Homo sapiens: one gene and its partner. The protein of the gene in region 1 interacts with the protein of each later gene in a pairwise test. Each region holds a gene or a part of one and is shown on either strand. Other genes may lie near its edges.

Region 1 (3,500 bases):
ATCCCAGCTACTCGGGAGGCTGAGGCAAGAGAATTGCTTGAACCCGGGAGGTGGAGGTTGCGGTGAGCCAAGATTGCACCATTGCACTCCAGCCTGGGCAACAAGAGCAAAACTCCGTCTCAAAAAAAAAAAAAAAAAATTCCGAGAGAAGGCCTGGTGTGGTGGCTCACAACTGTAGCCAACATGGTGAAACATCATCTGTACTAAAAATATAAGAATTAGCCAGGTGTGGTGATAGGGGCCTGTAATCCTAGCTCCTTGGGAGGCTGAGGTAGGAGAATTGCTTGAACCCAGGAGGCAGAGGTTGGAGAACTGCTTGAACCCGGGAGGCAGAGGTTGCAGTTAGCTGAGATCTCACCACTGCACTCCAACCTCGGCAACAGAGTGAGATGCCATCTCAAAAAATAAAATAAAATTCCAAGAGAAAAACAGTATACAATTTCAACCCAAGAATCCGAAAATCTAGATTTGATCTGAAAATCTAGGTCAGCAGTACTCAGTGGCACCGTTCCTCCCCAGGACACATCTGGAGAACATGTCGGATGGGCTTTGTTTTCGGTTGTGCTAATAGCTGTTACCCTGAGGATCCAGGAGGTCCTGAAAATCTTGTCCCACTATCATATACTTATTGACAAGCATTGATCCAGATGAAATCAACAATGTGGTAGGAATATGGTTTTCCTATGTACACGACAGGCAAAGGAAACCATCCGCCATATGTAAACATCTAGAAACCAATTTTAAGAAATACTTAACAGTAAAATATGGGAAAAAACAGAAATAGAGCTAATATACATACAAAGATTACACAGGAAATTTTGTTTTTTGAGACAGGGTCTCACTGTCACCTAGGCTGGAGTACAGTGGTGCAATCACAGCTCACTACAGCCTCGACCTCCCAGGCTCAAGCTATCCTTCTGCCTCAGTCTCCCAAGTAGTTGGGACCACAGGCGTGCACCATGGTACTCGGCTAATTTTTAAATTATTTATAGAGATGGGGTCTCCCTATGTTGCCCAGGCTGGTTTGAACTTCTGGACTCAAGTAACCTTCCCTCTTCGGCCTCCCGAAGTGCTGAGATTACAGGCAAGAGCTACTGTGCCTGGCTTACACACCAAATTTTTAATAACAACAAGGAATAGAACTTGGGAGGTGGATGACAAACAATAATTTTTTTACCACTTCTTAGTCTATTTCTGCAGTTTTAATTTTTGCAACAGAGAATGTATTGTATTTCTTTTTTTTTTTTTTTCTCTTTTGAGACAGAGTTGTGCTCTTTGTCACGCAGGCTGACAAAGAGTAGTGCAGTGGTGCCATCTCAGCTCACTGCAACCTCCGCCTCCCAGGTTCAAGCTATTCTCCTGCCTCAGCCTCCTGAGTAGCTGGCATTACAGGAGTGTGCCACCATGCCCGGCTGAGAATGTGTTTCAATAGATGTGTGTCTTTTTTTTTTGGAGACAGAGTCTTATTCTGTCACCCAGGCCAGAGTGAAGTGGTGCAATCCTGGCTCACAGCAACCTCTGCCTCCCAGGTTCAAGCAATCCACCTGCCCCAGCCTCCCCAATAACTGGGATTACAAGCGTGCACCACCATGTGCAGCTAGTTTTTGTATGTTTTAGTAGTATGTTTTTGTATGTTTCACCATATTGGCCAGGGTGGTCTCGAACTCCTGACCTCAAGTGATCTGCCCACCTTAGCCTCCCAAAGTACTGGGATTACAGGTGTGAGCCACCGAGTCCAGCCTCAACAGATGTTTTAATTGAATAGATGTTAAAATAATTATTAATGTTCATGATGATTTAACTTCAAGGATATTCCTTAAAACGTGAACAGAAAGAACCTCCTCATGATTTTAACAGTTTCTGATATTTGCTTTTTCTGAGAGTTTACTCTCTTATTTTCCATCTAGTTCCTAACTCATCTGGAATTTCTGTTGCATAAGGTATGAAACAGAAGCTATCTTTCCCTGTGCACTCTCCACGGAGGCGTTCAGGCACTCCTGGCTGACGCGTGCTGCCTGCCTCCTTCACGGCCTACATCCCTACACACACAGATGCCTCTTGTGGGACCAGGTGCAGTGAGGCCTGCTTTCTAACCTGGATTCCCTCATCCACAAGGTATGGTTACGACCAGAGCTTCCTCCTGAGAGCGCAGGGAGCTTGTGACACCTCCCAGAAATGCTCAGGGGACGCTGGCCACCTTGCAGAGAAACCCCTCCTAACGGGAAGGGAACATGGGTACGCGAGGCTCCGGTACTGACCGCGGCTGGGCGACAGCAGGCTACTTGGATAGGGGACGCTCACTCTCCTCAGCTCATCCAGCTTCTCCTGTAGCTTCCGCACCTGGCTGTCGGAGCGGCTGACCCTCTGCCGCAGGCTCTTCAGCTCGCCGTTCTTCTTCTCCACCTGCTCCCGCAGGCAGCACACCTGGCTCTTGTTCTGCCGGGAGGAGAAGCAGTAGGAGTGCAGTGAGTCGATGAGCTTGCAGGCCCCTGACGCCGACAGGATGACCTCGTTGATGGACATGGGGCTGGCGTCGCTGTGCTCGCTCTGCACGGCTTCCGTGGCTGGCTTTGGGGTGACGTCGGCAGGAGGGGCAGAGGGGCTCTGGGAAGGCTTCTGCGGTGTCGCGGTAAGTGATGAGCTGGGAGGGCTCTGGGCCAGGCCCTTGTCGGGTCCCAGGCTGCTCCCACTGCAGCTTGGTTCCACATCTTTCTTCAGCCTCTTGCGGTCAATGGGCTCTCGGGGGACAGATGGCCTTTCTCGGGTGTGCTTAGAGGAGAAACTGTACGAATGAAGTGAGCCGATAAATTTGCACGCCCCAGATCCTGGGGGCGTAAAGTCATCCATAGAAATGCCACTCTTATCTGTCACGCCCCCTTCGATGGAGGAAGTGGCGCTCTCATCGCCAGCATCTGTGGCAGACGCTTCTGCTTTTCCCTGACTGCCTGCCACCATGGTGGCCAGTCCATCTCCTGGAGTCCGTTCCAGAGCTTGCTGGGCCTGCTCCTGGCTGGCGGCCTCCTGGGCCGCCCTGGGTGTGGCTTCACCTTGCAGAGCAGCTTGCTTCAACCTGCGGGACTCTGGCTTGGCCATCGGGTTTCCACTCGAGGACGGTGACCAACCTGCAGCTCCTCTGCTGGTGGCGGCACTCGAGTGTCCCCTCACACCCCCTGTGGCCTTGCTGGCATCTTTTCTCCGGGTGCGGCCATGGCCTCCAGCCCCCCTCTTCTTCTCGGTCAGGTGGAAGATGGATGGCACGGCCGTGGGCTTCAGCAGGCGATGCTGGTCCTCCAGCCTCTTGGAGAAGCTGTCTTTGGTGAAATGCTCACTACAGAGAAATGAATACTTAGTGGGAGTCCAGTTATCCCTCTGAACAGCTTTTAACCATTGGATTAGACGTTTTGAGTCCTTTAGGGGGAACCTACAGGACAAATGACAAAAAGTAATTAGAAATAATTAAATGTCTCCCCTTAAAATAATCAACTGTAAAAGCAAAACAA
Region 2 (3,500 bases), on another chromosome or scaffold:
GGTGACAAAGCGAGACGCCATCTCAAGAAAAAAGAAATGTCATCAGTGAAAGGAATGGAAACAGTAGGTAAATTCCCAGATAAGCAGGATCGACTGACTTGGCGGGTATTTGCAGTAAATACCCAACACTCTGATTAGCCTGGTTTGGTTTCATATTAGTAGATGTGCTAAGTTCAATTTTCATGCTTATGAGCGACTTTGTGCAAAGTTACTAAATTATCTTAGGTTTTCAGCCTTATCTAGGAAGTAAGGATGTTATCAGATAACCTTTGTTCCCTGACCTCTATAAATAAAAGCTTAGTAAATGGATGAAAGAAACCCTTACGAATTTCATTCAAGAAACACTAATTTACACTGTGCAATTTTAAAAAGCCAGGTCAATTATTATATAAAATGCTGGAGCAGAGCACTAGGCATTTTTCTGAAGGGAATCATATCCTTCTTCATATTGTCAAAGGACATTATGATCTGTATGTTAAGAACCACTGAGGCTGGAGGACTGCTAGAGGGCAGGAGTTCAAGACCAGCCTGGGCAACACAGCAAGATTCCATCTCTACTAAAAATAAAATAAAAATTAGCTGGGTGCTTGAACTCAAGAGTTTGACAATGCAGTGAGCTATAATGATGCCACTGCTCTCCAGCCTGGGAGACAAAGTGAAACTTGTCTCAAACAAAAACGCAAAAAGAACCACTGAGTGAGACATAAAGTAGAGTGAATGGCCAGATGAAGATGAACTCTCTCTATGCTGTATGAAAAATCAGAGGTGGCAGGTGATCAATTCTACATTTTAAAATTCCATCATTTAAACAGCACTGATTTATGATACACAATTATTTTTACATGTGTATACATAATTTGCAATAAGCTATTAATCTTAACTAAAAATATTTTATCTGATATTTTAATGTTCTTTATAAATTCTGCATATTTTGAATTACAAGCTATATAAAGATCACTACTGTACTCCCAAAACATCTAAGTCAAAGTAAATATGGACCAGGTGCAGTAACTCACACTTGTAATCCTAGCACTTTGGGAGGCCAAGGCAGGTGGATCCCTTGAGCCCAGGCGTTCAAGACCGGCCTGGGCAATATGGCAAAACCTTGTCTTTACTAAAAATTAAAAAAAAATTAGCCAGGTGGGGTGGCAAACATCTGTAGCCCCAGCTACTTGGGAGGCTAAGGTGGGAGGATCACTTAAGCCTGGGATGTTGAGGCTGCAGTGAGCTGTGATCACACCACTGCACCAGCATGGGTGACAGAATGAGACCCCTGTCTAAAACAAACCAAAAAACCCACAAGAAAAGCAAGTATTAGTGTGTGTAGAATGCTATATATGCATAAGTATGCTCTCATATAGAAAGATCTCTGAGGTTGCACTTTCTATCTTTAAGAAGACAACAGGTTTATATTTTATTTAAACTTACTTGGGAAAATTGCATTAAGAAACTCTATTTCTTCCTGGAAATTCCGGTGTGGGTACCCTTGGTGAGAAGGCTTCATGAAATTCTTACGAGAATAAAAGAAGCTCTTTATTAAAAAAGAAAAGAAAGAAAAAAAAAGATGACTTTAGATGTAGAATTCTATCACTTTTCGAAGCTAATCAACTATTGTCCACATATCAAAAACTCGGCAAAATCAAAACTCAAATATTTTAGCTTGGCATGGTAGCATATGCCTGTAGTCTCGCTATTAGGAGGCAGGAGGATCACTTGGCCCAGGAGTCCAGCCTGGGCAACATACTGAGGCCCCATCTCTCTCTCTCTCTCTTTTTTTTAAAAAGCCCAGTCTAGTGATGATGGGTCATAACAACTATTAACACCAAGTATATTCCTTTCTAGAACAGTAGTTTCTAAACTGAGCTTATTAATAGTCATATAAGCAAAAATTTGGGGGGAATAACATATTAGTTTTAAGCATCGGTTAAGCACACATTGCTTTAGATTTCTTACAAGGATCAATTCATAACAACAAAAACTGTATTGAGTACTAATGACAATCCATCCTTTCCTTATGAAGTTAAAGATTAAAATTCAGGCCGGGTGCAGTGGCTCACGCCTGCAATCCCAGCACTTTAGGAGACTGAGGTGGGTGGAACACCTGAGGTCAGGAGTTAAGAGACCAGCCTGGCCAACATGGTGAAACACCGTCTCTACTAAAAATACAAAAAAAATTAGCCAGGCATGGTGGTGGGCACCTGTGATCCCAGCTACTTGGGAGGCTGAGGCAGGAGAATCACTTGAACCTGGGAGGTGCAGATTGCAGTGAGCTGAGATCGTGCTATTGCATTCCAGCCTGGGAAACAAGAGCGAAACTCCATCTCAAAAAAATAAAAAATAAATAAAATGTAACAACTGCTAATCAGAAAATTATACCCTAGGTAAAAACACCTTAGTTCTTGAAAAGTATAAGAATTTAACTCAATACTGACTGTTGCTCTTCATCCTAACTCTTCATTATAAAGACTGGACAATTTCAGTAACGACATTTTTCTTGCTTTTCCTTCTTTTCTTACCATTTCTCTATTATTATAAGTAGCCATGTTAAGAAATTAACTACTGGAAGTGTCTGGCTTCTTCATTTCTTTCTCCCATTTGAATTTCATCCTAACTCATTCTCTGCTTCCTATTTTCTGCTGTTCTTGAGAATCAGATCTCTTCCTAAGGTATGAACACCTTACCACGTGTTTGCATGCATTGTAACAAAGGCAGTAAGTATATAAATTTATTTACTTCGCATATTACAGGATAAGAACGCTAACATTTATGCCTGAAAAATATTTAAATGTTTGCTTACTTACTTGAATTGAGTCAAACCCACTGTAATCCCTAGCAAGCTTCAACAGGGGAACCAGTGCTTTCAGCAAGAGGGTGGTACCACATGTCTTCAAAATGAAACGTCTCTTGGAGACAAACATGCTACTCTCACTGCAGTTGAAAAAAGTCACAATATTATAACAATACTAATGTACTACTGAGGGTGCAATCAACCAATTTAATTATCATTTACAATTTTGGCTAGTACTTTTAAATATTAGGATCTCAAGGAAGCAAGTAACACATTATTCTTTTCCTTTTCTAGTATACAAAACATCCCCAGGGCTTGGCACATGGTAAGCATTTTGATAAACATTCGTATATTCATAATATAAACTTAGTTTAAAAAAAAAAAAGAGAGAGGCCAGGCACAGTGGCTCACACCTGTAATCCCAGCACTTTAGGCGGCCGAGGTGGATCACCACGTCAGGAGTTCAAGACCAGCCTGGCCAAGATGATGAAACCCCGTCTCTACTAAAAATACAAAAATTAGCCGGGCACAGTGGCAGGCGCCTGTAATACCAGCTACTTGGGAGGCTGAGGCAAGAAAATCGCTTGAACCTGGGCGGCAGAGGTTGCAGTGAGAGGAGATTGCGCCAATGCACTCCAGCCTGGACAGACTGAGACTCCGCCTCAGAAAAAAAAAGGGGGGGAGGGGCTGTTTAGTCCAGTATCCCCCAGCA

What was found. Proteins that work in one complex are often made in the same cells at the same time.
Region 2: the proteins of THAP4 (region 1) and AMD1 interact in binary tests that used the Homo sapiens proteins (3 or more experiments, as listed by UniProt).

Annotation. Positions count from the first base shown.
Region 1 is NC_000002.12:241,630,659-241,634,158, forward strand, and holds part of THAP4 (peroxynitrite isomerase THAP4), read right to left. Parts: intron 3,422-3,500; coding exon 2,259-3,421; intron 1-2,258. UniProt on the Homo sapiens protein: Heme-binding protein able to scavenge peroxynitrite and to protect free L-tyrosine against peroxynitrite-mediated nitration, by acting as a peroxynitrite isomerase that converts peroxynitrite to nitrate.
Region 2 is NC_000006.12:110,888,285-110,891,784, reverse strand, and holds part of AMD1 (S-adenosylmethionine decarboxylase proenzyme), read right to left. Parts: intron 3,450-3,500; exon of another isoform or gene 3,379-3,449; intron 2,929-3,378; coding exon 2,802-2,928; intron 1,532-2,801; coding exon 1,429-1,531; intron 1-1,428.